Regions from separate parts of the Homo sapiens genome. Here region 1 is linked to region 2. Evidence: fine-mapped expression QTL. A gene starts in region 2. The other region holds a variant in brackets. All regions are shown on one strand. Distances are from middle to middle. Region 1 overlaps TEK (TEK receptor tyrosine kinase). Region 2 holds the start of LRRC19 (leucine rich repeat containing 19).

The links.
Region 1: its variant is fine-mapped to the expression of LRRC19 in lung (TOPMed, PIP above 0.99).

Annotation. Positions count from the first base shown.
Region 1 is chr9:27,143,966-27,160,783 of GRCh38, reverse strand. It overlaps TEK (TEK receptor tyrosine kinase), which reads right to left. Exons shown (of 23, transcript NM_000459.5): 2 at 2,642-2,953. Among named protein-coding and RNA genes, the nearest start is that of TEK, 43 kb to the right of the region's middle. The variant A/T (reference allele first, on the strand shown) is at 7,727.
Region 2 is chr9:26,999,398-27,016,215 of GRCh38, reverse strand. LRRC19 (leucine rich repeat containing 19) reads left to right here and starts at 10,544. Exons shown (of 5, transcript NM_022901.3): 1 at 10,544-10,624; 2 at 16,513-16,602. The coding sequence starts at 16,522. It overlaps IFT74 (intraflagellar transport 74), which reads right to left. Exons shown (of 20, transcript NM_025103.4): 9 at 7,058-7,196; 10 at 4,248-4,310.

The DNA.
Region 1 (16,818 bases), 140 kb before region 2:
ACTTGCCCTGCTGTCATTTAAAGGTGAACATTCTAGTTTTGCTAAGAAAACCCTTTCCTTCATTTGGAATGAACAGCAATTTTATTACTTTTGACCTTAAAATGAGTTTGCTGCCTTCAAATCTTTTCATTACTACCATTAGTAAATTCAAAGAAATATTTTCAGCTGGACCCAAGTTAGAGGCTAACTCTAAACTGCTACTCAAAGCGTGGTCCATGGTCGAGCAGATTCTCATCACCTGGGACCTGGGTAGAACTGCATAATCCCAGGACTGTCCCAAACAACCTATTAAATCAGAGTCTGCATGTTTACAAGAACTACAGGTGATCTGTAAGCATGTTCAACTTTAAAAAGCATTGATCTAAAAAAAATGCAGACTACAGATGGTTAGATTATAAAAGAAACAGCCAATCAGCAATGTGCAGAGGTGTGTTACTTAACTGGATCAGCTTTCTAAAAGTCAGGCCTGGTGGGCTCACACCTATAATCCCAGCACTTTGAGAGGCCATAGTGGGAGGATGGCTTGAAGCTAGTAGTTCAAGACCAGCCTAGGCAGCAAAGCAGGACCCCCATATCTATGAAAAATTCGTTTAATTAGCCAGGCATGGTGGTGCATGCCTGTAGTCCCAGCTACTTGGGAGGCTGAGGTGGGAGAACAGCATGAGCCCGGGAGGTCAAGGCTGCAGTGAACTGTAATTGTGCCACTGCACTCCAGCCTGGGCAACAGCAAGACCCTTGTCTTTAAAAAAAAAAAAAAAAAAAAAAAAAAAAAACCCTAAACAGCTGACAATGTCATTATTTTATGTAATGACAAGTCCTCAGTCCACAGCTCCTGTGGTTGTGATGATACTAATTTGGAAAAGACTCCTTCATTTTAGGAATCAGCAGCCCAGACAAAGTGGCTGATAGGGGAGAGGCCAGATCATTCCAGGCAGAACAAAGAGAGGTCACCTTAGCTGGAATTCTGTACCTTCCTCCCAGCAGACAGCATCAAGAGCACCAGAAGTCTGCCTGCCTGTCCAGGACTGGAACCTTATAATACAATTATTAAATAATATTTGCAACACCATCTCCTTCAACTGCCATCACACAGGTGGACTGGTCTAAAGATTTAGCTTAAGGCCCACTTTTATTTTGGGAGGAAGACTTCATCACATCATCACCTTGTGGGGTGGTAGCAAGTCTTAATAATCCTCCCTTAGAGGAGGCTTTCAAAATCCTCCGGCAAAATTCTGGTGTTTTCTGAGCTGGACCTGGGTACTCGACTGCTAAAATTAAATCATGGTCCTTTTCCAAAAATGGTAGCCTGCAAAGAGGGCCCTAATTCTTCATCCCTCCCTGTATCCCTGACTCTTTGTCATTTCAGTTTGTAGTGCCCTCTCACTCTGATACTAGGCTCAGCTACTTAACTGGCTTAGGTTGATAAAATGAAGCAGAAGTGATAGTGTACAATTCTGAGCCTAGGTTGCAAAGAGCCTCATGTCTACATCTCATGTACATGAAATGTAGATGGCAGTGGTACAAAAAAATAGAAACACATGAGGCTCCTGGCAACCTAAGCTGAGAATTGTACACTATGACCTTATACTACCTTAGCCTGCTATAGTATAAGGAACTGAGCAAAGTTGCCCCAGCCAAGGCCAGCCTACTAAGCCTATAGCCAGGCAACACCATATATGTAAGGAATCCCAACCAAGGTCAATACATCCATCTAATCAACACAGCTGACTTAGACTCACAAGCTATAAATGCTCATTATTGTATGCCACTGTGGTTTGTGGTTATGTTACACAGCATTATTGTGGCAATAGAAAATTGATACACTGGCCGGGCATGGTGGCTCACGCCTGTAATCCCAACACTTTGGGAGGCCATGGCGGGCAGATCACGAGGTCTACAGATCAAGATCGTCCTGGCCAATATGGTGACACCCTGTCTCTACTAAAAATATAAAAAATTAGCTGGGTGTGGTGGTGCTTGCCTGTAATCCCAGCTACTTGGGAGGCTGAGGCAGAAGAATCGCTTGAACCCGGGAGGCGGAGGTTGCAGTGAGCCAAAATCATGCCACTGCACTCTAGTCCGGTGACAGAGTGAGACTCCACCCCCCCAAAAAAAAAAAAAAAGGAAAAGAAAGTTGATATACCAAATAACTAATTAAATTAAGTTACTGATGGATATTCCCCTTCTAAAATTCTTATTTATATTTAATTTTCTCCTGAAAATATTAACTTCCATTAAGGGTATTTAGGGACAAGCAAAGCAATGTATCACATGAAAAATCAAATAAGAAAGCTCAAAATAGTAGTTTGGCAATGAACACTTGTTTTCATTGCTATGATTTTCATATTACATACATGTAACAGTCAACTATCCATAAGTACCATGATGCCCTTAGAACATATGAAATATTTCATCTCACAAAGTAGGCACAGTATCTAGTTAAGGGGTTGGACTGGGTAGTCTCCTTTATCTCTAACATTCCATGTACCAGACACGGTGATGCATGGAAAGAGACAGGCAAGATCGTCAAGCTCTACATTCAGGTAGTGCATGCCCTGCCCCTGAGGGAGCAGCTGCCAAGACAAAAGGTGTGTGTGTTCCTCAGTGGGCCTCACCTGCCCAAAACTTAGGGGCATGTTACCTTGTTGACGCATCTTCATGGTTCGTATCCTGATTGCCTCTCCTCGAACTCGCCCTTCACAGAAATAAGCACCATTGATCTTACTAGCCTTTTCTCTCTTCCAAACAACTTTTTTAGCCCATTCTCTGGTCACATCTTGAGTAACTTCCAGCGGATCCTGGTGCTGGTTCATTAAGGCTTCAAAGTCCCTTCCTATGGTGATGGGCTCATGGGGGCGCCACCCAGAGGCAATGCAGGTGAGAGATGTTTCAGCATCAGATACAAGAGGTAGGGAATTGATCAAGATCAAGTCCATGGCACCTTCCACAGTTCCTAAAAGGAAAGAGAGACAATAATGTATGACTAAGGTTATTAACATGACCCCATTGGGTAAACTGGTGCTCACAAAGCCTTGTCTTAAAGTTGTGTGAGGATTCTTTCTAAAATGCTATTCTGACCATGTGCCTATCTTCCACTGGACAAAATCCAAAACTCTTTACCAAGGCATCAAGACCCTTCATCAGCTAGACCCTGCTAACCTCTCCTGCCCCACTGCATACCCTAGTTGCAATGGACTACCCATTATTCCCCCAACAAGCCATGCACTAGACATAGCTGGGTATTCAGGAAATGTATGTAGTATTAAGATGAATTAATAATAATGACATTATCATTATTCATTTAACTATTAGTTATCAATTGATGCTAATGTGATACTGTCACAATAATAAAGTATTCTAAAGAAATATATCAACTACATAAACTTATGCCTTATAGATTCTCATTTTTAAAGAATTGCACAATTCCACATTAAATACCTCAAGATAAGTGACAGACAGTGACTAAGTGAAGTCTTCATTTCCCTCAGGGCCTCATTTACTCCATCAGGATTCTTGTAAAGATTAAATAAGATAAAATACATAACTTGCCAACCACTCTGTCTGTTATATATTGCATACTCAGTGATTATTATTTCATTTCTCTTTATTCTGTTTCCTGAACACTTAGCCCCAAACCTTACCCTCTCCCCAAATGTAAAAACAAAAACAAAACCTTACCCAAACTTTAAATTTTATGAATTTGTTCTGTAAATGAGGAAGTACACTTTTAAAAAGAAAATCCTCTCATGTTATTTTCTCACTATTTCTCTTTCTTTCTCTCTCTCCCCTCCCCACCCCTCCCTTTTTTGATTTCTAAAGGTTCTAACATGAGCAGATAGAGTCTGTGTCTATTCTCTCCTCTTTAAATGTGGAAATATCAGGGATGGAAAATGTTCTCTAGCTCCAGTGATGGTTGGCTCTCAAATGTGCATAAAACAATCAGGAGACTAGAAAAATCAATTGAGTGATGAGGGCCCAACTAGAGTCTCAGAGACCTTTGTGTAGAAGTGATTCAAATAAGCTACATGTTATCTTATTGAATACCCATTAAATTCAGCAACTCTGTGAGGTATGCACCATTATCTCAATTTTAAATATGAAGAAATGAAGGCTCAAAAGATTGAGCAGCTAGTTTCATTTTCCACAGCTATTGAAGGCAGAGCTGGGATTCAAATGCTCACTGGTCTTTGATTCCTTGGATACAAGATACTCTTTCCTACCTCAAAGCCTTTGCTGTTCCTTCTGCCTGGAATGTTTTTCTCCACTCTTGGCATGGCCACCTTCTGCTTGTCCTTTGGGTCTCAGCTTAAGTGCCACTTTCTCATAGAAGGCTTCTCTACCTGCCTTATCTATAATACCTATACACTCTCATCCCATTGACCTCTAATTTGGCCTCCTGTTTTATTCATACAGATTACCATAATTTGTGATTATTTTATTTACTCTCCCTCTAAATGATAAACTCCAAATGTTCTGTATAGGAAGAGGAATTTAGGAATTGGTTTACAATGGAATATTCTCCGTAATCTCAACATATAGAGGACTTAAGTATTTGTTGGATGAGTGTATGGATGAATGGGATGGATGGATGGGCAAATTTTATTTCAGATCTGCCTGACTGAAGTCCATCCATTTGCTCGGCTTCCAATTCTAGAATAATAAGGTTAAAAATGAAAGTGCGGGCCAGGCACAGTGGCTCATGCCTGCAATCCCAGCACTTTGGGAGGCCGAGGCAGGGGGATCACCTGAGGTCAGGAGTTTGAGACCAGCCTGGTCAACATGGTGAAACGTTGTCTCTATTAAAAATACAAAAATTAGCTGGGTGTGGTGGTGGGTGCCTGTAATCCCAGCTACTCGGGAGGCTGAGACAGGAGAATCATTTGAGCCCGGGAGGCAGAGGTTCCAGTGCTGCGCACCAGACTGGGCGACAAAGAGCAAAATTCTGTCTCAAAAAAAAAAAAAAACAAAAGTGCTCCCCCGAGTCTGAACTGACCTCCTTGCCCATATTTAACTGTTTTGGGGCAAAAAAACATTATTCCCAATGTTTTGGGGAAAAAAACATTACAATTTTTACAAAATGCCAAAGAAAAGTGACCAATGACTGCTGAGCGTTTAAGGCTAATATTCATTTACCAGAATTTTTGAGCACCTACTTATGTCAAGCATTGTACCTGATATAAAGTCCTCATATAATTTGTTTTTAATGGCAATTGCCAGTGTTTACTGTATTCAGTGATGTTTTGAGGATAATCTTGGTACAAATTAAACCTTTATCTGAATGATTAGAAAGAAAAATTTCAAAGTCAAGTCTTCGTGTAAGCAGGAGTTACACCTGCATTTTATTGTAATATTAACTCATTACATGAGATTGAGGGAGAAAATCTCCACTAGAATGAGTTCCCAAGCCTGGCCTTGAAGCATCCATTTTACTTCTAGCCTCATTGGTAACTTTTAAGATCTCAGGACAGAGAATACAAGTTAGGATAGTAAAAACATTGAAAGAGACGACGAGCTACAAAGCCTAACAGTGGAATTACAGCCTCCAAAAATAACACCAGCACACACCTCCCCTTCCACGTACATACCCAGGCCTGACTCTGAGTGAACACCACTTCATCTCTCACACTCACACATTCCAGGCATGTTCCAGAAAGAGTCATCAAGAGGAAGGAAACACTGTAATTCTTTCAACTCCAGTTCAATCCAGCCCCATTTCTAGGGCCAGTCAAGAGTCTTGCCAAAACCACAGGATCTGCTCTGAGCTCCCAGCGGTGGCAGTGGCCGTGGTTTATTTAATAGCTTTAGGAAATAATACAAAATGCAGTTGATTTGAAAAGACAACCAAGCTATGTATAAATTATTTCTAGGTATGTATCTAGTTTCTTTTTCCTCTTGCTCCTTTCAGAGATCTCCCTTTACTTTCAGTGACGGAAAAGGAAATTGTGGCCTCTGGGAGTCTGGACTTGACTATACTTCGCTACCCTTGTTCAGCATGCCGGTTAAGGAAGACCTCTTCCACCAGCCAGTACTCTGTCCTTTGTAACCCCATTTACAGTACCAGAAGGATCTTCTATGTGAGCTTTGGGTATAAGAAGACATACCTACCAGCTTCCTAGGATGAGTCTTGAAAATCACCTGCTTAGTTTTCTTAAAATGAGAATCTATAGTTGTATTTGCTAGTATCTGCCTAAAGAATTTCTAGAAGGTGACACATAAAAAGAAGAACAACGATGACCTATTCGGGGGAACTGGGTAGTTGGGGCACAATGGTAAAAGGAAGACTTTTCCCTATATGCTTGTGTGTACTGGCTTTTGAACAATTTGACTATTATTCACACATAAAAATTAAACGTAAAAAAAAGTGTTATGGCCCATTTCTTAAAAAGGGGCAGCTGGAGGCTGGGCGCGGTGGCTCATGCCTGTAATTCCAGCACTTTGGGAGATTGAGGCAGGCGGATCACCTGAGGTCAGGGAGGGATAGCCTTAGGAGAAATACCTAATGTAGATGACAGGTTGATGGGTGCAGCAAGCCACCATGGCATGTGTATACCTATGTAACAGACCTGCACGTTCTGCACATGTATCCAAGAACTTAAAGTGTAATAAAAATAAATAAATAAATAAAAGAGAGACAGAAAGAGAGAGAGAAAAAAATGGCAGCTGGAAAAGAATCAAGAGCCATGGACATATATGTCCCTTTATGTCTCATCCTTCAGCCCTATATCTACTCCAAATTTCAAATTACATCCAAATAATGCATTTTTCTCTTTCTCTCTTCTTTGAACTAATAATAGGAAATGTGATGTTATCTCACAATGCTGAAAAATAAAGGAGTTAAAACTTAATGCTGAAAAAAAAAGTAGCCAAACAGCCTTTCAGAAAGAATAGAGCAGAGGCTCCACGACAACGAGTACAACTGTGGTCCGTGGCTTCTTGAAAGAGTTCTGCTGCTGACACCATGAAAGGCATGGCTGCCACTGCATATCTGGTGCCACTCAAGACATTTTCTAATAGAGACATTTCCTGAGAATCATTGCCAGAAGACAGATCCTATCTGGGCTCATACCAATATCAATCTCTCTGCTTAATACCCTTTCTTACATTATAGCGCTATCCTCTCCAAATCATGTTGGGGACGGATAGTGAGTTGTTTCATCACAACCATATCTAAAAGGCTCTGATCAAATTCATTAATAGTTTAATTCATACTTCTATCATGAAGGCTAATAATTTGCTGAAACAAGATGCATATTTAATATCATACATCTTATAAGTTTTAGAGATTAATGCTATTTTTCCTTAACAAAGATCTCTCAAATACTTTTTCTTTTTTTGAGACGGAGTCTCGCCCTGTCGCCCAGGCTGGAGTACAATGGTGCGATCTGGGCTCACTGCAACTTCCGCCTCCCGGGTTCAAAAGAATCTCCTGCCTCAGCCTCTCGAGTAGCTGGGATTACAAGTGCCCGCGACCACGCCCAGCTAATTTTTTTTCTATTTTTAGTAGAGGCGGGGTTTCACCATGTTGGCCAGGCTGGTCTTGAACTCCTGACGTCGTGATCCACCCGCCTCGGCCTCCCAAAGTGCTGGGATTACATGTGTGAGCCATGCGCCCAGCCTCAAACACTTTTTCAATGTTTGCATAAAAGTGTGTCCTTGTTTATAAGGAACTACTTGGCATTGTGGCATGACGTCTACCAAGTTAACAACCAAGCATCACAAGTGAAGC[A/T]TAACAATCCTCTAAAATGTTTTGCTCACTGTATTTTCTGTGTTCTATATTGAACAGTATCTAATCTTTCTTAGTAGCGTCTTCTCACTAAATCTTATTATGGTGAACTCAAAATGTTGTTTAACTCTAGTTTTTATATTTACATTTTCTTGTATTCAATATTGCTATGAATAATGAGCCATTAACTAAGACATGGGAATATTTTTATTTAAAAATAGTTATGGAAATTATTGTGGGCCTGAATCAACACCCATATTATAGAATTTAATTACATTAGAAATTAGAGACAGAGCCATGTTAAACTGTGTTTAAAGAAACTGTAATTTCTCATGTTCTAAAAAGGTGCTCCAGAAGTTTCTGAGAGTGGAAGAGGTGAAATCAACAGAATGGACTCTAGACCCACACCCTCACCCACTCCCAGTGAGCTACTCAACTTTATTTTATTTTATTTTTTTGCGGCGGGGGGGCTTCATATAAGATTTTATTTGAAAGAAAAAAATTTTGCTTAATTAAAAACATAAAACCTCAAAGGTCAGCAATTTTCATTTTTTCACAGATGAAGGGGATGAAAGGTTAAACATATCAATGAAAATACACTCCACTGCAGCACAACATGCTTGCTCCAATTAGCTTTTTTTTTTTTTTCCACATTCCAGTTCACATACAGCTGCAGATGAAATCAAGTCCTGATTTACCCAGTTCCCTGATCTTCGAAGTGTTGGCAAGCTAGGAGACAATTTTAGGCAGATTAAATTATTGCATCGCAGGCTTATTCCCTTGTGCTTCTTACTACCTCAGAATTGTAGTATTGGGTGGAATTCTGCTAAGGTGTGTTTGGAATAATGCGTCATGTCTTCAGAACAACTAACTGTATGGTCACTGTATGGTTTTTTGGAAATTTGGTATTAGCTATGGTTAAATTTTTCAAAAGGTGTTCATGGTAATTTCATCTTTGTAACAGAAGTAGGTATCTTAAAGTTCTAAATATTTGAAATACCAATTAGCACTTCCTTGGCCAAAGGCATTTCAGAAATCAGGGAACTGGCAATGAACTGAAAAGGTCTGAGTCAAAAGCATTTCTGGAATTAAGGCCGTGGCAATGAGCCAAAGAAGCAAAGACAACTCCCAAACTATCCAGGATATTTTGCGAAATTGTTTGGATTTTAGTTTAGGTTTTTTGTTTTTGCTGTCCTGAAAAAGAAAAATTATCTTCAGTTCAAAAAGCACTCATTAAGTTGTTTATGTGTCCATTCATTCACTTACCACGCAGACTTATTGCATGCTTCCCCTGTGCCCAGTACTGCACTTGGCCCTGGAGACACAGCAGTGAATATACAACCGTCTCGTAGCTTATAGGCAAATGTAGGAGACAGACATGGAAAACTAATCACATAAACACATAAATACAGACAGGTACTAAGAGAGAGAATTACAAGATGCTTATGAGACACCATAATGGTAAACTTTATCAGACTTGACTGTTTTGAAGGAGGGTTTGTGGACTTTTAGTCTAAAGGAAAGTTGGGGTTAGCCAGGCAAAGCAAGAGAGAGATGAGAAGATAATCAGAAAAATCTTCCCCAAAATGGTAACTACTGAGCAGTAGTTACTCATTTTTCAAAAATGAGTTTTTAGTAGGACTCAATTCTAGAATGTTCTTTCTCTATCTTAAAGTTGCTATTAATTTCTTTCTGTTGGGCCCTAAGAACTACCAGCACTATTCCTCTGTGTCAACCCTTATGTTAAAGTATTTTCAGTATCTTTTCTGCCTTCTTGTCTCCCATGAAGAAATCCAGTTCCCAGGCATGTTTCCAACACTTTAATCCTTTTTTATTCTCTGTCTTCCTTTTGTGTATGTAGTAAGTCTCTGAGCAATAACTTCTTCCTCAAGATTCCTTCCAAGAAGATATTGGGCAGCTAACAAGAAGATACCAAAATATACAAGACTGGAAATAACTAAAGGAAGTTGCTAACATTTTTATTGTATAGCTGGGAGTTCAGAGTTATCCAGGGGCATCCTGGATGTGACTGGGCTGTGACTCTCTAACAACAAACTCCTGTGCTCACCCAGGAGTTGTACCAAGCCAGTTTCCCCAAAGGCCATGCCCGTTTCCCATCCCTGCTTTCCAGCCAAATGGCACCCTTGTCTGTCTGCTGGAGGGAATGACATCCTCTCGCCACCTTCAAACGCCGGAAATTTTCCATCTAGGCCAAATAACACATGTGTTAGTTAGAATGAGGATCAGTCAGCTGGCAGGAAACTTTTTATTTCCAGGGAACAGACAGAGCATCCACACAACGAGACTTTACTGAACATTCATTTATATGCAAACTCCATTCTGTGAGGCAGTGGGGGTGCAGGAAGCATGGTTCCATCAAATCAAGGATTGTTTACACCGGAAGAGGTTTTACAGACTGCTTGGTGCAAGCCTCACACCTTATTTTTTTGAGACAGTGTCTCACTCTTGTCACCCAGGCTGCAGTGCAGTGGCACAGTCACTGCTCACTGCAGCCTCGAACTCAAGGGCTCAAGTTATCCTCCCACCTCAGCCTCCTGAATAGCCAGAACTACAGGCATGCAACACCCCTCCCCCCAGCTAATCTTTAAATTTTTTGTAGAGATGGGGGTATCACTGTGTTGCCTAGGCTGGTCTCGAACCTCTGGGCTCAAGTGAAGCTCCTGCCTTGGCCTCCCAAAATGCTGGGATTACAGGCATAAGCCAACATGCCTGGCCAAGCCTTACACTTTATAACAGGCAATCTGAGGCATATAGAAAAGAGACCAGTTGGTGATTGCACAAAGGGTAGTGGTAGAGCCAGCCCTCAAGTGCTGATTTCTCTCCAGGGCCCTTTCTGTCACCCCAGAGTAGCAGTGTTAACAGCCAAGTCCTTAGTGTGAGGGAATATGGAATGTATATACATCTGGCAGGAGGGCGCCTGGAGAATCCTGGAGTTTGGTAGAAATTGGGGGAAGAGAAAAAAGATTTTGAGGAGAGGTGGCTAAAAAGCTAGAAAGGGTACAGGACAGAGAAATTGAGAATATCTAGAGAGGAGTTTTGGCCACCTTACAGATTCCCTTAAGCCTGGCAGTGCTGCCTCATCATCTTCCCTACTCACTTTGTCTCAGGAGTGGGATGCTCTCTAAATGCACTGTGTTTATCAGCACCAGGATACCCGGTATGGGAAAAATGCATCTTTGGAACCAGACCACCTTTTTCTGGGCTCTTCTCCTGATTCAATTACCTGCCAAGTTCCCAACTACCCTTATGCTGCTCAAAGACGTACATACCCACACCCACAACCAAGCATATCTATCTTCCAAGACAGCACTGAACAAAATTCAGTGTCTCCTCAGTGCCCTGTTCTTCTGCTCCCAACAGAGAAGGCAATTTGACTGACTTGCCTGCACAAAGAGGAGAATAAGCAAGAATTGCTCAAAGTGACAATTCACGGAGAACGATTGGAGGAGCAAATCAAAGAAACGAGTCTATAATGGAAGAAATTCAGGATTATATTTGCTAAGAGGAGATTGACAAAAGAAGTCACCTAGCCTTCCTAGTAGGCCTGAGATTATACCATGTAGAAAAGGAAGCTGACAATTTTTATTATATAATACATAATAAACACAATGCTAAGTGCTTTACAAACATTGTCCACTTGAATTCTCACACTATTGAAGGAAAGCATTTACACTCAATTTTATAGGTTAAAAAACCCTGAAATTCAGGAATGTTTAGGGATATGCCCAAGGTCACATAAGTAGAAAGATACAATTTGAACCTATGTCTCATTGATAATAAGTTCCATTACTACCTACCATGCTTTAGTCTAAACACCATCTAAAAGTCAATTTTGCCCATCGCTGTATCTCTAACAATGAGCACAATGCCTGGTTTATAATAGGTATTCCATAAACATTGATGAATGAATAAATAAATAAATGAGTGAGTGAGATTGGCCTTCAGTGAATGCATTCATTCAATAAACCTTTATTACTATGGGCTGGGCTCTGTGCTGCTTTCTGTGGGTCAAGAAAATAATAAAAAATAAAATATGGTTTCTGCCTTCAAAAAGCTTACATTCTGGCCATCCAATGTCATGAAGAAAAAACACTGATAGATTTTATCACAGAAAAAGCCAAAACCTTCTATACAGCAAAAGATTATATAAATGAAGTTAAATGACCAAGTAGAAAAATACTGTTACATGTAAAACGTATGTTACATGTAAAACTTAAGGAGTTAATATGTATAACATATAAAGAAATTTCATAAGTCGTTGAACCAATAGCAATTCACAGAGAAGGAAACACAAACAGCCAGTCGCAGTAGATTCATGAAAAAGTGGTCACAATATTTTGCATTTCATTCCATCAAGAAGTGGAGTTTCTTTCTCCATCTCTTGAATCTAGGCTTGGCCATGGGACTTCTTTTGATCAATGGAGGATTAGCCAATGTGGCATAAGCAGAGGCTTGAAAAGTGCTTGCCCACTGGGCTCTCCCACTGGGCTTGCACTCTTGCTGCTGCTCTATGGAACCCTGAGGCCATCATGAGGAGACGCCAAGACTAACCCGCTAGAGGATGAGAGACCAATCCAGCTTAAGCCAAAGAGTTTCCCAGATGACATACAGAAGCATAAGTCATAATAAATGTTTGCTGTTTTACCATTATGTTTTGGATGCCTTGTTACTCATCAAAAGCTGATATACTCACAACATGTGAAAAGTTGAAAAGATGTTTAACCTGACCACAGATCTCAAAATACAAACTAAAAAGACATCTCATTATTTGCCTATCAAATTGTCAAAGAATGGAGAGGGTCATAATATCTGGTGCTGGCTGTTGAATAGAAACATCTATATTGTTGATGGGCAGTGTAATTAGTAAAACATGTTTACAGGACGTGCTCGCAATATCTACAATAACTGAAAAGTTATATAAAAGCTAACCCTAATTCATCACTTATTATGTCAGGTACTACTCTAAGTGTGTCAACACATAATAACTCAATCCTCATAGCAATCTAGGCAGTAGGTACTATGACTGTTTCCATTTAACAGAAAAGGAGACTATGACAAAGAAAGATTAAATACTTGGTGATTGTTACACAGCTAATTTGTAGCAGAGCTGAGACTGAAATTTAGGTGGACTGGTTTCACTCCATTCTTTCAACAATTAAACTATATTACACCATCTCACGTCAAAAATGTCTAACAATTCAATGAAGTTGTTTTCAACAAATAATACTGGAACACTTGGACATCAATATGCAAAAAAAGAGCCCTAACCTAAAACCACCCATGTATACAAAAATTCACTAAAAATACATCGTGTAAAACATTAAAATACAAAACTTTAGGTATATAGAAGAAAATCTTCATGACACTGGAGTTAGAAAGTGATTGTTAGCTATGACACCAAAAATTAGCTGTCATAGACACCATGAATAAAAAAGAAATTGTTACGCTAAATTTTATTAAGATTTAAAACTTTAGTCTATGGAAGACATTGTTAAGAAAATAAAAGGACAAACCATGAACTGGGAGAAAATATTTGCTAATCACATATCTGGCAAATGACTTGCATCTAGAATGCATAAAAAGCTCTCAAAACTCAACAGTAAGAAAACAACTCAATTTTTTTAAATGAGCAAAAGATTTGAGACACTTCACCAGAGAAAATGTATAGATGGCAAATAAGCACAAAAGATGTTTAATATCATTAAACATTATGGAAATGCTAAGTGAAACCACAATGAGATACTGCTACAAACCTATTAGAACAGATCAAAAAACAAAAAAAGAAGAAAGAAAAAAGAAAACCTGATAATACCCAGTGCTAAAGAGAATGTGTAGGAACTGCAATTCTCATCCATTGATGGAAGTAATTTAAAATGGGTGGTATAGCCACTGTGGAAATTGGTTTAACAATTTCTTATAAAGTTAAACATACACTTACGTATCACCCAACAATCCCACTTGTAGGCATTTACCCTTCAGAAATGAAAATGTACATTCATACAATGAATGTTGGCCGGGCGCAGTGTCTCACGCCTGTAATCCCAGCACTTTGGGAGGCCGAGGCGGGCAGATCACAAGGTCAGGAGATCAAGACCATCCTGGCTAACACGGTGAAACCCCGTCTCTACTAAAAATACAAAAAATTAGCCGGGCGTGGTGGTGGGCACCTGTAGTCCCAGCTACTCGAGAGGCTGAGGCAGGAGAATGGCGTGAACCCGGGAGGCGGAGCTTGCAGTGAGCCGAGGTCACGCCACTGCACTCCAGCCTGGGAGACAGAGCAAGACTCCGTCCCCCCCGCCAAAAAAAAAAAAAAAAAAAATAGAATGTTTATAGCAGCTCTATTTATTCATAATCACCCCAAACTGGAAGCACCCAAATATCCTTCAGTGGATAAATACATAAACAAGCTATAGTATATCCATGCTACTCAACAATGAAAAGAAAAAACCTATTGCTACTTGCAGCAACATGGCATTATGCTGAGTGAAGAAGCTAAAATCATCTTCTACCTACTGTCCGACTGCATTTATATGACATTCTAAGAAAGGCAGGCCTGTAGGGATGAGACCAGATGAGTGGCTGCCAAGGATTAGGGCTGGGAGAAATCTGACTACAAAGGGGCAGCACAAAAAAGATTTTTGGGGTGATGGTACTATTCTGTATCCTGATCGCTGTTCTTAGTGGCAGATACATGAGTGTATGTGTTAAAACTCATAGAGTTGTATACACACAAAAGCCAATTATACTGTATATTAACTTTAACAATTATAATAAAAATGTATCTTTCATATTTACCAGTAAAAATATGCAAAGATATGGCAAGGATATTCATTGCAGCATATAGCCACAAACTGTAAACAATATAAAGTTCATCAACAGAAGCATCTCTAAATAAATAACGGTACATACATGTAATAGGGTATTATAAGTTTGCATGAGCCTTGAAATATAAAGTGAAGAAAACAAGATGTAGAACAGTACGATGACATCTAAGCTTAGAAGTCATACACCAACCTGATAACAGTGTTACCTGTTGCTGATAAAACTGGCAGGCACATGGGGGCTGAGAGAAGCAGCACCATAGAAGATATTCACTTATTGCTTTGCATGCTTAGTTTTGTATTTCATTTCCTCTATAATTTTAAAATAAAGATTTTTATTTATAGGAAGGCACACACAACTAATCAATCTAATGACATTGTTCTAATTAAATATTGACATGTCTGTCTTCTTCCTTAGACAATGAGCTTTCTGTCTTCAACGCCCCAGCACCAAGCACTGTGTTTGACAGACTACTCATTTTAAATATGTATGAGTTGAACTGGAACAATTCTAGCAGTAACTGAAAGTAATACATCTTAAACCCAGGTGACTATTTTGTGAATTACTAATTGCCTGACATGATTAACAGGACAGTGGAGTCATTAAGAACTTTGGTCTTGAAGTTCTGTCTTAGTTTCCTCATGTGTAAAACAGGGTGATAGCTTCTAAATCATTGATTTCTGTGTAAAGGACTATTGGTATTATCATGGCACAAAGCCAGTTTGATCAAGTAAATCTGTGTGAAATTATGGCCTGTGTCATCCCCAGAGGAAGACTGTTTTTAAAGTCATCTTGGAGCTAAGACACCCTTAGAAGGAAGGACGGCTCATGGCTTTGTGTCCTGCTGTGTGCTTACCCTCCCTCACACTTCAAACCCACATGGGCAGGAAACAGGCCGATCAAGAGCTAAGGAAGAGTTCCTGTGTTTCCTTCAAGAGTCCTTTGATTCTTGCCCCCTTTTTTACAGGGCTGACCTTAACAGGAGACCAGTTCTCTGCACGTGCAAGCAATTCTGGAAAAGCAGTTTCACAACCAGCCTGGCAATGTGGTGGCAGCCTTGGGGAGATCAGGGGGCTATTTGGAGATGAGCTTAAGAAGTTGCTTCTTGGGTCTTTGCCAGCTGAACCTCAGGGAGACCACTCACCTAACCTAACCCAAAGAGCCCACATATGTGTCTCTAAGCCCAAGAACCCCCACTTACATTTTCTTCATCTTTAGAAGTGTGTGCACAGTCGATATTCTATTCCTGGCAACACTGTCTTGTGGAATTCTGTTTGTTCAACCTGACAATGAAATATACTCTCCCAATATTTTGCTCCAAGAATTCTCTTTTCCCTCCCTATATGTTGCTTTTCTTCCCTCTCGAACAGGACAGGAGCTCTAGGTTCTGAAGCACAGTTCTCCAGCTCACTAGAGGGGACATATTCTTAGCTCAGTACTGGAAGAGGGCTCAGAGGCCCTCCAGCCTTGTACCATTTAGTTTAGGAATTGCTTTACTACAATTTTGGAATCTATTGTCTTCCAGGCCATATGTGAATTATTTCTGTGATTGTGTGCCACCTATTTGGGAAGTAGCTTGTCTGATCACATTCCCTCGCCTCAATTAAAAAAAAAATCCTGTGTGCTTCCAAACGACAGATAAACATTTGCCAGGTGAAATTCCAACTGGATTTTATGTCTGTTTTTCCTCTATCAAACTGCAGGCCTAAATATCTCAAGAGTCGGAGGCCTATGCGCATTCGTTAAGAGAGAGTTCTTGAGAAACTTTAGGTATAAATGTATTAAGTGTAATCCCCATGGGCCCCTACCAGTCCCCATATTCATTCCGATGGCAGTAACATCATTCCAAACACACTGGGAGCTCTTCTTTATGAATCATCCATAGCATCTTCGCATGAGCTACGCTCTTTACATATTCTCCTTTTCCTTTTTTTTTTGAGACGGAGTCTTGCTCTGTCTCCAGGCTGGAATGCAGTGGCGTGATCTCGGCTCACTGCAAGCTCTGCCTCCTGGGTTCAAGCGATTCTCATGCCTCAGCCTCCCAAGTAGCTGGGACTACAGGCATGCACCACCACGCCCAGCTAATTTTTGTATTTTTAGTAGAGACAGGGTTTCACCATGTTGGCCAGGATGGTATCGATCTCTTGACCTCGTGTTCTGCCCACCTCAGCCTCCCAAAGTGCTGGGATTACAGGCGTAAGCCACCGCGCCCAACCTCTTTTCCAGTTTTTCATGAGCTATACTCCCTGTCT
Region 2 (16,818 bases):
CCACTAGAAGCTAGGAAGAAGCAGAGCAAGATTCTGTCTAGAGTCTCAGAGGAAGCATGGCTCTGCTGACACCGTGATTTCAGACTTCCAGGCTCTGGAACTGTGAGAAAATTTGTGTTTCTTTTAAGCCACCCAGTTTGTGATATTCTATTATAGCAGCACTAGGAAATGAACACATGAAATAACAGTTACTGTGTACTCACCACTATCCCACCTTTCACAAAGAAAAAAATAAGGATGTGACAAAAATGTTATTAGCTAACAACACCAAAAAAAAGGTAGGAATGGTGTTGGTGATGATTAAAATGACATTTGAGACTCTTGTTTACTGAGCATCTGTTCTGTGCCAGGCACTATACTACATGTTATTTATATGCTATCTCTACTATCCAAAGTGATACTCTACAAGATAGTACTATCATCTCTATTTTACAGATGAGAAAACTAAGGATCTGACATGTAAATAACTTTTCAAAGTTAACAAAGACATAAGAGTTAACAGTGACATTTGAAACCGGACCTACAACTTGAACAAAATAAAATTCTTAGAAGGGAAGACCTCATTTTTTTTTCTTTTTTGAGATGGAATTTCGCTCTTTCACCCAGGCTGGAGTGCAGTGGTGCGATCTTGGCTCACTGCAAACTCCGCCTCCCAGGTTCAAGCGATTCTCCTGCCTCAGCCTCCCAAGTAGCTGGGATTATAGGCGCCTGCCACCACGCCCAGCTAATTTTTGTATTTTTAGTAGAGATGGGGTTTCACCATGTTGGCCATGCTGGTCTCAAAACTCCTGACCTCGTGATCCGCCCATCTCAGCCTCCCAAAGTGCTGGGATTACAGGTGTGAGCCACTGTGCCTGGCCAACCTCTTCTCTTCTAAAAGTATGAAAGAAGGAACCTCCAAAAAAGGAACGAGTAGACGAGATAATTTTTCAAAGTCCATAAGCAATGGATTATATATACAGTTCAAGTAACAGATTAGGCATCAGATAAGATTAAAAAAAGCCATGCTAAAAAGACATAGAAGAAATGCAGATATTTTATGCTATCCTTTTTCATAGTATCGTCTCCTTTTTGCCTAACAATCCTATAGATTTGTTTGAATTTCATCTTGATAAAATTGTTCTGGAAGACTTAAGCTCATGTTAATCCTTCACCTGATTTTTTCCACTCTTGTGAACTGAATAAGCATGACCTAATACGTTGTACAGCAGTGAACATAAAGTATTCAAAAAATACTAGTTGATTGACCACTATCTGACAGGTATTTTCTTGAAGAACAAGTCCTAAACAAATAAATAAAAGAAATCTGGGCTGGGCGTGATAGCTCACGCCTGTAATCTCAGCACTTTGGGAGGCCAAGGCGGGTGGATCACAAGGTCAGGAGTTCAAGACCAGCCTGGCCAACACAGTGAAACCCTGTCTCTACTAAAAATACAAAAATTAGCCGGGCATGGTGATGCACGCTTGTAATCCCACTACTCGGGAGGCTGAGGCAGGAGAATTGCTTGAACTCAGAAGGCGGAGGTTGCAGTGAGCCAAGACTGTGCCACTGCACTTTAGCCTGGGCAACAGAGCAAGACTCTGTCTCAAAAAAATTTTTTTTTTTAAAAAGAAAGAAATCTGGCAAAAGTTAAATAGAATTAGTGACATGTTATCTTAATTTGCACATATTGTGTATTTTTAAAACTCTTGTTATTTTAGGCATAAATGTACTGACATCAGAGAAGAACGGCATCAGTACAAAAAGTAAATCTAAGGTTATAGCTTATGATTTTTCCTATGGAAACCAAATTCACCAAGTGAAGTAAGACTTGACTCTCTCAAACCCACTCCAAAAAAGAACCATGAGGAATTCTGCAAGCTGGTTGTATTAATACTAAATGTGGTCCTTCTTTCTTTAAGCGTATTTCCATCACCAGAGATCCAAGGAAATAAAAATTAAGTGTCTTTATAGATGGACAACCAGACACAGAAAACTACCTGCTTTTTTTTTACTTTTTTTAGACAGAATCTTGCTCCGTCGCCCAGGCTGGAGTGCAGTGGCGTGATCTTGGCTCACTGCAAGCTCTGCCTCCTGGGTTCATGCCATTCTTCTGCCTCAGCCTCCCGAGCAGCTGGGACTACAGGTGCTTGCCACCATGCCCGACTAATTTTTTGTATTTTTAGTAAAGACGGGTTTTCACCACGTTAGCAAGGATGGTCTCGATCTCCTGACCTTGTGATCTGCCTGCCTTGGCCTCCCAAAGTGCTGGGATTACAGGCGTGAGCCACCACGCCCAGCCAACTACCTTACTATTTTTAATTAAATAACTTTTTCAATAGCAAATTCTCAAAAGAATTAATTACAAAATACTCATTTCTTTTGCAAGCTAGGGTGTCAGCAATCTATCAGTCTACAACAGTTCCTAATACTGTCATCATGATGTCTACCTGAATCCACAGGAAATCAGGAAAGGGAGGCAAGATTTGAGATACAGACAGTATACTGAAACGCCAAAAATATGAAAAAGGAGTTCAAAGAAAAAGAAATTCATTGGCCAAAAATGATATAAATAGATACTCAACTTTATTCATAAATAAATGAAAATTCAAATAAGGTAGTAATTTTTACCTATCAAAATAGCTAAAACTGGAAAAGTCAGATAATATTTGCTGTCAGTGAATGCAGGGGAAATAAGCATTCACATACATTACATCTAGAAGTAAAAGTTGGAACAACCTTTTTGAAGGCAATTTGGCAATCTGACAACATTTTTAAACTGTATACCTTTTGACCCATTGTGAGAATTCAATCTTATGATATAACTTCGCATAAAATGTATGCTTTCACAGGAGTATTGTTTATAATCCCGGAAAACTATAAACAACCTGTTCATTTACAAGGCTGTGTTATAATTATACAACATAATACATTGTAGCAATTTAAAATAATGAGGAGGTTCTCTAGGAACTGATATAAATAGACACTGTAGATACAATGTTAGGGTGAAAAAAGAAAGCTGCAGCTAGCATAGCACGTAGGAACCCCACTTGAGGTTTTCCACAACTGTAAAACCAAGATGGGATTTAGGACTCTTGTGGGGATTACATGAAGATGATGCTGATATGTGTTTACAGCTCAAAAAAGCATACAGTAAGCACTTGATAAATGTCTTTCCAGTAGTTCTATCTGGAAAGAAGGACACAAAACAGACATTTTGGCTGGGCGCAGTGGCTCACGCCTATAATCCCAGCACTTTGGGAGGCCGAGGTGGGCGGATCACAAGGTCAGGAGATCGAGACCATCCTGGCTAATACAGTGAAATCCCATCTCTACTAAAAATACAAAAAAATTAGCTGGGTGTGGTGGCGGGTGCCTGTAGTCCCAGCTACTCTGGAGGCTGAGGCAGGAGAATGGCGTGAACCTGGGAGGCGGAGCTTGCAGTGAGCCGAGATCGCACCACTGCACTCCAGCCTGGGCAACAGAGCGATACTCTGTCTAAAAAAAAAAAAAAAAAAAAAAAAAAACAGACATTTTTACTTTCCTCTTGTTCAACTATTTTTAAACCATATGCACATTTTGTTTTGTGAAATAAAGCGTTTTAAATAAATGAATAAAAAAAGTAAGTTTTTACATCCTTAAAGAGATGAACTCATGTCTCTCCCTCTTTCTTTGTTTTTATAATCTCTTGTGTATGTGTCTTTAAATTGCCATTAGAGGCTGAGCACAATGCCTCATGCCTGTAATCCCAGCACATTGGGAAGCCAAGGCAGGAGCATTGCTTGAGGCCAGGAGCTGTACATCAGCCATAACGAGACCCTGTCTTTACAAAAAGTAAAAAAAAAATTAGCCAGGTGTGGTGGTTCCTGCCTGAAGTCCTAGCTACTTGGGAACCTGAGGAGGGAGGATCGCTTGAGCCCAGGAGCTTGAATTTACAGTGAGCTACGATCATGTCACCGCACTCTAGCCTGAGTGACAAAGAAAGACTCTGTCTCTAAAAAAATAATTTTTTTAATTGCTATTGGATTTTGCATGTCCTAGGTAGGGCGGAATGATTTGTTTTATACATAGTAGGTACTCAATAACTGAATCTAATTTCTTACCATACTAGGATCTTTGTGGGTCCAGAATAGGAAGAAAAAGTATTAAACTCCTATTAGTAAGCTGCCAGATCAATATGTAGTTGAATTAGTTATATTAATATACTTGGCTGAATTAACTTTTTTAGCTGAGTAGTATGAGAACCCTTATTTGATTTTATACTTACTGCTTCCAGGCTCTCTTTTTTCATGTTCTGTGAATCCAATTGTTGTTGAAGTGTATCTAATTCCTAAGTGGAAAAAAAAAAGCAAACATAAATCCAAATTACATTAAGAATAATTTGTTGTAGTGGGGGGAGGGAGCTGGGAAAAAAAATTTATTTCTCTGTTTCTCAACATTTCAAAGTGACTAAGTAAATTTTCTAAATATCTTCACTGGCATCTTACATTTTGACTAGAATTTATTAACACTTCATTATTTCTATTTTTCCCAACTTCTTTCATTATTCTTAAAAACTTGCTGTGTGCCTTCAAAAAAAAAAAAAAAAAACTTCATGAGTTTCTCAAAAGTAGCTAGACCTTAGACCTTTTCACACTGAATCATCACTATGTTCTGAGACATCAAATATCAGAAGCTTTCAAATTATGTCATTGTTTAAGATTATTATTTAAAATTTTGATTTGTAACCGTGTTTTCACATCTTTTGCCTAATTTCTCTATACTGTGTACACACACATATAACACATGCACACATACATACACATATATGTAAATATAAATATGGTTCACATGTACACATACATACACGTATATGTAAATATAAATATGGTTCACTCCTAAGATAAGATCCTTAAACTGTTTACTCATTCATTATCCCATACAAGATTAACTATATTTTGGTACTATTTTGGCATTTCTATCATACTCTTTCTTTTTTCTTTTTGAGACAGAGTCTCGCTCTGTTGCCCAGGCTGGAGTGCAGTGGCATGATCTCGGCTCACTGCAACCTCCGCCTCCCGGGATCAACCAAGTACCTGCCTCAGCCTCCCGAGTAGCTGGGATTACAGGGGCCTGCTACCATGCCTGGCTAATTTTTGTGTTTTTAGTAGAGACAGGGTTTCACCATCTTGGCCAGGCCATACTTTTTCTTCAACGCTTCACAGTATCTTAGAAATCTTCTCTAAAATAAAAAGGTTACTAAATTGTCAGCAAAGGAATGTCTAAGAAACTAAAACTATAATCATTATTGGCATTTATGGGGCCTAATTCTTTGCTTAATCTTTAGTTAAGGGCCATCTGGGCATGAAAGGGAACCACCATGACTGAGTATTGAGAGGATTCTCAATATGCCCTCAACAGGGACTTAAATTGCTTATTTAATATTGCATGTTCTCACTCATCTGTAGGAGCCTAAAAAAGTGGATCTCGGCCGGGCACAGTGGCTCACGCCTGTAATACCAGCACTTTGGGAAGCCGAGGGGGGCGGATCACCTGGCTAACACGGTGAAACACTGTCTCTACTAAAAACACATAAAAAATTGGCCAGGCGTGGTGGCGGGCACCTGTGGTCCCAGCTACTCAGGAGGCTGAGGCAGGAGCATGGCATGAACCTGGGAGGCGGAGCTTCCAGTGAGCCGAGATCGCGCCACTGCACTCCAGCCCGGGCGACAGAGCGAAACTCCGTCTCAAAAAAAACAAAAAAAAAAAAACAAAAAAAAGGGGGTAGTAGAATGATGGTTACCAGAGGCTGAGAAGGTGGTGCCCAGTTGGGGGCATGGGGTGGTGTGGGGGAGAGAAGGAATAAATTCTCATGTTTGATAGAACACTAGGGTGGCTATAGTTATCAGTAATTAATTGTATGTTTCAAAATAGCCAGAAAAGGAGATTCAAAATGTTTCTAGCATAAGGCCGGGCGCGGTGGCTCATGCCTGTAATACCAGCACTTTGGGAGGCCGAGGCAGGCGGATCACGAGGTCAGGCGATCAAGACCATCCTGACTAACACGGTGAAACCCCGTCCCTACTAAAAAAATACAAAAAATCAGCCGGGCGTGGTGGCGGGCGCCTGTAGTGCCAACTACTTGGGAGGCTGAGGCAGGAGAATGGCATGAACCCGGGAGGCGTAGCTTGCAGTGAGCCGAGATGGGCACTGCACTCCAGCCTGGGCGACAGAGCGAGACTCCGTCTCAAAAAAAAAATTTTTTTTAAATTAAAAAAAAAAAAATGTTTCCAGCACAAAAAAAATGCCAAATGTTTGAGGTGATGAATATCCTAATTATCCCGATTTGATCATTATACATTGCATACGTGCATGGAAATATCACATGTACCCCATAAATATGTACAATTGTGTATCAATAAAAAAATTAATTTTTAAAAATGGAAATTTAGGCAATATAATTACAGGACAATAGCCATTCAAATCATAATGCTAACAGGTAAAAAGGTTAGCTGTTTATTAAGCAGGAAGGAAAAGGAAAGTAAATATATATATGGATCTGGTCTATGAGGCCTTTTTTTTTTTGAGACAGAGTCTCGCTCTGTTGCCCAGGCTGGAATGCAGTGGTGCAATCTCAGCTCACTACTGCAACCTCCACCTATGAGGCCTTTTAATGTTTGCATTAAAAGTCTGTAACTGCAAGTATTTACAGACTTTTTAATTTACAGACAAGTATTTTTATCAATGCAAACATTTATAGAAAAGTACTTTTATAAATGCAAATATTTATAGACAAGTATTTTTATAAATGCGAGTATTTTCATGTCTTTATGAAATGCAAAATGAATAAATAGAAGTAAACCAAAAATAATAAGAGTAAAAGCTAGGTCATCAAACAGCAGATGAAAATGAAGTTTTCTAAATAAATTCTTCTGAAATGTGAATATACGTATGAATCAGATGGGGACCTTGTTAAAATGAAAACTGATCTCAAAGTATAGTCAAGTTCTCAGGGGATGCTGATGCTGCTGATATTCAAACTATACTTTTAGTAGCAAGAATGATACATGCTTGGCACACAGCAGTAATTTGTATTACCTGTAACAGTTTCTCATTTGTGGTTTTCATCTCTAGGTACTTGACTTGGTTTTCAAAAGACATATTTTTGATAATGTCATCTGTTGCTTGTTTTTCCTGTTCAATTTCTTCTTCGACACTTCTGATTTGTTTTTCTTTCCTAAAATCAGAAGCACGTAATATTCCTGATACTATATTGAGGAAAAAATATCCAATTATTTTATACAAGTCATGGTCCTAATTTAATAGGATACTTAAAGACATTCAACCACAGTGTGTGACTGAAAAGTCTTTATATTTGTACTAAAAAATGCTATTTGACCTATATAAAATTTGGCCCCATTAGCACAAACTTATTTTTACATCTTTCTCTTCTCCATCCCTAAATTCCTCTATTTCCTTACTCTCCATTTTATTTTACTAAGAAATCACAAAGATTACCAAAAAATCCTTAATGACTTATATATATGAGGATGCATTTATACTTTTTTAAAGTTATACCTTCAAAAGACAAATAAGAGGCTGCGCTCGGTGGCTCACGTCTGTAATCCCAGCACTTTGGAAGGCTGAGGCAGGTGGATCACCTGAGGTCTGGAGGTCGAGACCAGCCTGGGCAACACGACAAAACACCCATCTCTACTAAAAGTACAAAAATTAGCCACACGTGGTGGCGGGCACCTGTAATCCCAGCTACTTGGGAGGCTGAGGCAGGAGAATCGCTTGAACCCAGTGGGGAAGAGGTTGCAGTGGGCTGAGATCGCGCCACTTCACTCTAGCCTGGGCAAAAGAGCAAAACTCCATCTCAAAAAAAAAAAAGACAAATAAGTTTTAGAATTGTGGTTTTAAAGCATCCTTTAGCCATAAGTTTTTCTGACTAAATTAAATACTGTATAGAAGTTTCCCGTGTAAATCATCCAGTGTGGCTCTGACAGAACTAGGGAGTAGAGAGGCCTGCAGTGCAATTTGATTTTTTAGTTATGGCTTTAGATTAATAATATGCTTTGCTTAAGTTCTCTTTTACTTACTGCTTTAGTTAACATTGCTATTTCACAAATTTTTGCTATTTTTTAGCATTGTAAAATATTAAGCTCATTTCTCTAAAAACACAATAAACATTACAAACATAATCCTATAAAAGTAGTAATAGTGAAATTAATTAGAAGCAATAACCATTTTTATCACGTAATCAAAAGAAATACCAATGACATGTCACTTGTTGCCTAGGCAAGGTCAATTATTGATAGGGTAGAGAAAAACTCTGAAAAAAGAATAGGTAAGATGCCACTTATCTAAATACTTTCAAGATTTACATTTTATAAAAAGCTGGATTGAACACACATTTTCACTCCCAAGATCATTAATTTCTATTTTGAGTTTCAAAATCTGATTAACCTATCACTATTTACTCTCTTTCGCTCATAGATACCAACTTCTATAGTTTTCACAATCACCAGCTAAGCTTGTGGATCCACATATCCCCTACACACCTTCTACACATTCATATCCTACTACTAGAATAAACAACCTAAACTCAGAAATTTCCCTACCAAAAAAAATCTCAAAATAACCAAATAAAAGATGAACATAGTAAAGCAACCTGGAATTTCAATTTATTTTTGTTTCACTGTTGGAGAAGAAGTGGTATCTTCACTTGGAGCTTCAATTACAACAGTAAAACAAATGTGTTTCCTGCTGCTACAATTTGTATAGGTATATGAGCTCAAAGAAATTGAAAGGAAAGTATCTATTTTCATAAATTAAGGATACTGAAGCCCAGTGGAATTAATCTTTTGGAAGGAATTCATTCTAAATTTGATTACTGACTACCAACAGTGTTTCTTCTTTCAATGTAGGAAGATGAGAACTAATGTTATAAAGTATTCCATTTTACAGAGGAGAAATTACAGCATAAGAAAAGTAACTGACTTTCTAAAGGCCATATGATGTCCAGGTGTAAGGTCTTTTTGATGCTTTGAGTACTTTGCTCCTGTTATAACTTGGCAGTAAAACCACTGATGATGGTGTCATAAAAGTAAGTAAACAGGCTGGGCATGGTGGCTCATGCCTGTAATCCCAGCACTTTAGGAGGCCGAGGCGGGCAGATCACGAGGTCAGGAGATCGAGACCATCCTTGCTAACATGGTGAAACCCCGTCTCTACTAAAAATACAAAAAAATTAGCTGGGCGTGATGGTGGGCGCCTGTAGTCCCAGCTACTTGGGAGGCTGAGGCAGGAGAATGGCGTCAACCCGGGAGGCAGAGCTTGCAGTGAGCCGAGACTGCGCCACTACACTCCAGCCTGGGTGACAGAGCGAGACTCCATCTCAAAAAAAAAAAAAAAAAAAAAAACACACAATAATAAGTAAACAAAAACGTTGAAACTCAATAGAATACAAAACTTGGTGGTATCTTTACAATTTGAATCCCTCCCTACCTCCTTTCTTTTCTCTCTCTCTCCTTTCCTTCCTTCCTTTTCCTCCCTCCCTGCCTCCTTCCCTTCCTCCTCCTCCTCCTTCCCCTCCCCCTCCTCTCTCTTCTCTTCTCTCTCTCTCTCTCTTTCCCTCTCCCTCTTTCTGTCTTTCTTTCTTGACAGGTACCACTTGTCACCCAGACTAGACTGTGGTAGCACAATCATGGCTCACTGCATGCTCAAACTCAAGCCATCCCCCCACCTCAGCCACCCAGGTAACTGGGACTAAAGGCACACAACACCATGCCCTGCTAATGTTTTTACTTTTTATTTTGAGTAGAGACAAGGTCTTGCTAAGTTGGCCGGGCTGGTCTCAAATTCCTGAGTTCAAATTATTCTCTCATCTTAGCTTCTCAAAGTGCTGGGATTACAGGTGTCAGACTCTGCACCTGACCTCAGTTTGAATGCTTCTAAGCACAAAATACCATCAGGACAAACATAAATTAATTTAGCAACAGTATATCTTTCAAAAGTATGCATTTTCAATATTGTAAACTCTAAATCAGTAAGTAAAATTGTTAATACTTTAATAAAATTTTCAAAGAGTAATTAAGAAACACAAAGGTAGGCTGGGTGCAGTGGCTCACACTTGTAATCCCAGCACTTTGGGAGGCTGAGGCAGGGGTATCACCTGAGGTCAGGAGTTTGAGACCAGCCTGGCCAACATGGTGAAACCGCATCTCTACTAAAAATACAAAAATTAGCCAGGTGCAGTGCCGGGAGCCTGTAATCCCAGCTACTCAGGAGGCTGAGGCAGGGAGGAGAACTGCTTGAACCCAGGAGGTGGAGGTTGCATTGAGCCGAGATCATGCCACTGCACTCCAGCCTGAATGACAGAGCGAGACTTCATCTCAAAAAAAGAAAAAAAAGAAAGAAACACAAAGGTTAGGCAAACAGCCTTACTTGTTATACTAAAAAAGGAAAAGATGACTTTAAGAAATTATTCTTCTAGTCAATCTTTTGCTAAGGAAGTCTAGTTTTTTTTTTTAAATCACCTGTTCACTGGGTACAAAGGTTAAAACAAAGTGAAATGTAATCATACGATGTACTTTTTTTAATGCCGTTGAAACAGAGTTAATTTCCTTTAGCACACAAGTCTTAGAGACAAAAGAAAAAAAGGTAAGATATGTATATTTATAGCTTTGGTTATTGTTGTATTTTTTTTAATCATATTTAAGTTTGTTAAGTCTGTACAACCATCTTTGCCTTTAAGAAGTGATGAAAAATAAGAAAATATGATTATATTTTCACATGGTCTACCTCAAAAATACTATATACCTGAGACATGGCCAAAGGGTCTTTCCTAAATAAAGTTAGAATACAATACTAAGTAATTGTTTTGCGGGGGGCGGGGGGGGAAATGGTTTCATCTAGCCAATCAAATTTATAAGAATTTTTATTTTAAAATATGTTAATCACAGAGCATTCTGAAGTGACACTAATCTAAAAGCCAATTGGCAAGATAAAAAAAAGACTGGCCATGAGTTGATGATTATTGAAGCAGGCTGATAACTATTCTTCTTACTTAGGTTTTTTCCTTGAAATTTTCCATTACAAAAAGGTTTTAAATCTGAAAAAAATCTACACAATAGTTAAATAAGGAAACAAAGTTAATTGTGTATTATTAACATCATTCTCTAAATACATTGAATTCTGGCATAAATATCTAAAATACTTAATGGAAAAACTACATTTAGATTTTAACAAAACCAAAATAATTACAGCATCTCTTTATTTCATAGCATATAATAATCATATAAAGTAAATAACTTAAGAAACATGTACTTGAAACTTTATTAAGAACAATGCTTCTTTTTCAGTATCTACCATTTCCTTTGAGTAAAGCTCTTTTTTTTTCAGTAACGTAGATCATATGCTAGGTAAAAATGCACGTAATTTTGTGAAATAACAAAAGAAACTGATATTCCATCTTCTATTCCAGTTTTCTATTTTATATTAGCTCCTAAGTAATCACTATATGAAACTCAACTATCATTTCAAAAAAAATCCAAATTAGAAAATATTCCAAAAGGAGAAAGAAAGCAACAATGACTGACTTCCTTTTAAACCAACTGTTGAAACAGGCTAAACTGACTGATGGATAATTTCTGCATAATCTACTTGGCCAGCTATTCTGCGTATCTGATTTTCTTTTTTTAAAGACACCCAATAATGCTAGCAAATGCTTTGTCTGGGGACTTACTCAGTGTCATGATAATCGACATCACCCCCTCTTTCAATCTTTCTCCTCTGAAAAGGCACACAAATATGTGAAAACTCTCACAGATAGTATGGATCAATCAATGTATTTCACAGCTTCAGACCTAACGATGCTTTAGATTTGTTGAATGCTTTCTTGTACAGAATCTACCTTGAGCTGAGTATACACTGCTTCCAAGATCTATCCAATGGAAAGGAAAAAAAATCCTTTTCTAATCCTTATGATTTTTTTCTTTTAGCGCACTTGAGAAAACAATTATTAGCATTAAATAGCAGATACAGATAATAAATATAAAACCATACTCCGTCTCCATTTCCACATAAGCTCACAGTCCTGTCTTGCCTCCATTACTTTTTTCACCTGCTTCTATTTCATATCAACTTTTAACTTAAATCTAGTTCATTTTCTTTGTAGCCTATTTGCTTTCTTTCACTATCCCCATCCTATTTGTTTCTGGAAAAAAAACAGCACTTCCCTTACCCACCTCTCCTCAGTCACCTCTGCAGCCTACTAGAGACATCAGTAAGAATTTCACCACATCATTGAGAAATACTGAAACAAGCCATTGAAGGAGCTGAACACCTATTCCTATAAATCATTAAACATAGGTAAACTACCTTTTGTAAATGATTTAGGCATCCCTCTTCTATGGGCAATCATCTTGAATAAGTGATAGTTTAAATGCACTTCTGGCTCTAAAAGGGATTCTATTATGATCTACATCCAAATTTTATAAAATATAGGAGGCAGAGTAGCTTTTCCTAACAAATTTCATTTAACTATGGAAAGAGAAAAGGTAGAAGGGGAATGTGCATAAATGGATCAACAAATCAAAGGCAATGAGGAAGTTGACTAGAACAGACTAGCACTAAAATAGCAGTAAATTCCTTATTGCTAACGAGGCGAGAGACTTTAGTATGCTGCATGGATTCTTGCCTACTCTGATTAGTTTTTCTTTTTTTTTTCTGAGACAGAGTCTCACTCTGTCACCCAGGCTGGAGCACAGTGGCATGATCACGGCTCACTGCAACTTCTGCCTCCCAGGTTCAAACAATTCTGCTGCCTCAGCCTCCCAAGTAGCTGGGATTACAGGTGCCTGCCACTGCACCCGGCTAATTTTTGTAATTGTAGTAGAGATGAGGTTTCGCCATGTTGGCCAGGCTGGTCTCAAACTCCTGACCTCAGGTGATCTGCCCGCCTCGGCCTCCCAAAGTGCTGGGATTACAGGCGTGAGCCACTGCACCTGGCAGACATGATCTTACACTTAAAAAATTAAAAAAAAAACAAACCCTAAATACTCCACAAAAAATCTGTAAAAACTGACAACTGAATTCAGTAAAGTTGCAAGATATAAAATCATCATATAAAAATTGGTAGAATTTAGATATGCCAACAGTGAAGAATCTGAAAAAGAAATCAAGAAAGCAAGCCTGTTTACGATAGCTACAAAGAATATAAAATACCTTGGAATCAATTTAACCAATGAAGTGAAATATCTATATAACAAAAACTGTAAAACACTGATGAAAGAAACTGAAGAGGATACAAAAAAAAATGGAAATATAATCCATGTTCATGGAGTGGAAGAACATTGCTAAAATATCAATACTAACCAAAGCAATTTACTGATTCAATGCAATTCCTATCAAAATACAGTGACGCTCTTCATAGAAGTAGAAAAAAAAATCCTAAAATTCATATGGAACCATAAAAGATCCCAAATAGCTAAAACAACCCTCAGCAAAAAGGAACAAAGCTGGAGGCATCACACTACCTGACTTCAAAATTTTCTACAAAGCTATAGTAACCAAATCAGCATGGTACTGGCATCAAGACAGATCCATAGACCAATGGAATGGAATAGAGAACTCAGATATAAATACACACATTTACATCAACTCATCTTCAACAAAGGTGCCAAGAACATAAAATGGAGAAATAATAGTTGTTTCAATAAATGGTGCTAGAAAAACTGCATAACTATATATGGAAAAATGAAACCAGACCCCTATCTCTTGCCATATCCAGGAATAAAAATGGATTAAAGACTTTAATAAGACCTCAAACTATAAAACTGTTTCAAGAAAACACTGGAGGGCTGACTCTCTTTTCGGACTCAGCCCACCTTCACCCAGGTGAAATAAACAGCCATGTTGCTCACACAAAGCCTGTTTGGTGGTCTCTTCACATGGACCCGCATGAAAGTGGCACATGCCTGTAGTCCCAGCTACTCAGGAGGCTGAGGCATGAGAATCACTTGAACCCAGGAGGCAGAGGTTGCAGTGAGCCAAAATGGCATCACTGCACTCCAGCCTGGGCAACAGAGCCAGACTCTGTCTCAAAAGAAAAAAAGATCTGGTTGTTTAAAAGTGTGTAGCTCCTCCCTCTGCTCTTTCTTCCTCCTTCTCTAGCCATGTAAGACATGCCTGCTTCCCCTTCACCTTCCACCATGATTGTAAGTTTCCTGAGGACCCCCCAGACGTGCATCCTGTACAGCCTGTGGAACTGAGTCAATTAAACCTCTTTTCTTTATTTAAAAAAAAAAAAGAGAAAAAAAGAAAACGTTGGAGAATTGCTCTAGAACACTGGCCTGGACAAAGATTTTTTTGTGTCTCTAAGACCTCAAAAGCACAGGAAACCAAAGCAAAAATGTACAAATGGGGTTTCGCCAAGCAAAAAAGCTTGTGCACAGCAAAGAAAATGATCAAAAAAGTGAAGAGACAACCCACGGAATGAGAAAATATTTGCAAACTACCCATCTAAAAAGGGGTTAATAATCAGAAGATATAAAGAGCTCAAACAGCTCACTAGCCAAAAACAAACCGATAAAAAACAAATAATCCAAGTAAACATGGCAAAAGAACTGAATAGATATTTCTCAAAAAACACACAAAAGACAAACAAGTATGTGGAAAAAATGCTCAACATCAGTAATCACTCAGGGAAATGCAAATCAAAACTACAATGATATATAATCTCACCCCCATTAAAGTAGCTTCTATCAATATGACAGGCAATAACGGATGCTGGTGACGATGTGGAGAAAGGGGAACCCTCATACACTCTTGGGAATGTAAATTAGTATAGCCACTCTGGAGAGCAGTATGAAGGTTCCTTAAAAAACTAAAAATATAACACTTACATTTACATTTGATCCAGTAATTCCACTGGGTATACATTTAAAAAAAAGAGATGAATATATTAAAGAGATAGCTGCACTCCCATGTGTATTGGAGGACTATTCACAAGAGCAAAACTATGGAATCAACCTAAGTGCCCATCAACAGATGAATGGATTAAAAAAAAGTAGCATATATATACAATGGAATATTATTCAGCCATAAAAACAAATGAAATCCTGTCATTTGCGGCAACAAAAACGGAACCGGAGGTCATTATGTCAAGTGAAATAAGCCAAGCACAGAAAGACAAATATCACACATTCTCACCGGCATGTGGGAGCTAAAAAAGTGGACCTCATATAGATTAAGAGTAGACTAGTGGTTACCAGAGGCTGGAAAGGGTGGTAGGGAGGGAGGAATGCAGAAAAGTTTATTAATGCATACAAACATACAGTTTGCTTAAAAAAAGAAGGCCTAGTGTTAGATCAGTAGGGTAATTATAGTTTACAGTAATTTTTTTCCTTCAACTTTTATTTTTAAGTTCCGGGGTACATGTGCAGGTTATGCAGGTTTGTTACATAGGTAAACATGTGCCACGGTGGTTTGCTGCACAGATCAACCCGTCACCTAGGTATTAAGCCCAGCATCCATTAGCTATTTTCTGATGCTCTCCCTCTCGTCTAATTTACTGTACATTTAAAAACAGCTAGAAGAGAATTTGAATGTTTCCATTATAAAGAAAAGACAAATATTTAACGTGTTGGATATCCCAAGTACATTAATTTGATCTTTAAAAATTATATGAATGCACTACTTTATCACATGTACCCCAAAACTATGTATATCTACCACGCCTCAATAAAATTTTTAAAAGTTACCATGGGGGGAAAAAGAGTGCTAAAGATTCTCATCTCCCACAGTTTTAAGTCAAGAATAATAGATAGATAATGCCAATAGATAATGCCTAAAATTGAAAAAATCAAGACCATCAATATAAGCATATACTTAAACATGCATAAATATACGTTTTCCTGAATTTCTTTTGTGCACTTCTATATTAAATTTTTAAAATTTACAACCACTTAAATTGCTTTAAAGCTCCTTTCATGAGATCTAGAAACTAATGAGACACACTTAAAAATATTAATTTTCTCTAAAAAGAAAAAATAGAAATCAGTCTCATTCTTCAAAGGGGCTTTCTAGTTTATTAAGATCAGAGTGCAAGGATGGTGAATGGCCATGCACTTGTTTCACATTTTATGTATTTCAAGAAAAAGTAGATTTGAAAGGCCAGGGTAAGTGGCTCATATCTATAATCCCAGCACTTTTCAAGGCCACGCCAGTGGCTGGGGGGAAATGGCTCGCACCCAGGAGTTTGATACCAGGCTGAGTAACACATGGTGACCCCATCTCTACAAAAATTTTTAAAATTAGCCAGGCATGGTAGTGCATGCTTGTGTTTCAGCTACTTAGGAAGCTGAGTTGGGAGGACTGCTTAAGCCTGGGAGATCAAGGCTGCAGTGAGCTGTGACCATGCCACCAGGTCTGTGTGACAGAGTGAGACCCTGTCTCAGCCAAAAAAAAAAAAAAAAAAAAAGAATAAACAGATTCAAAAGAGGGAAAAATAAAAATGTCCTTAATGAAAATACTCTCTTTTCTATCAGGTCTGCAACATGAAAGTCACAGGCATCACAATCCTCTTTTGGCCCCTCTCCATGATATTATTATCAGACAAAATCCAGTCTTCTAAAAGAGTAAGTTTTTACAATCAAAATAGTAAAAATATTTTCAAAGGTACATTTTCTGTATATTTAGTAAAATATAAAAGGGCAATAAGAAAGCAAAGAAAATCTGACCTACTAAAATTAAGAGTTTATTTAGCTCTGTATATCCAAATTCCAATTTGACAAAAGCAGCCTTCATTTATAAAAACTGAGTTCTTTAAAAGTTGATTAAAGGGAGAGATCTGA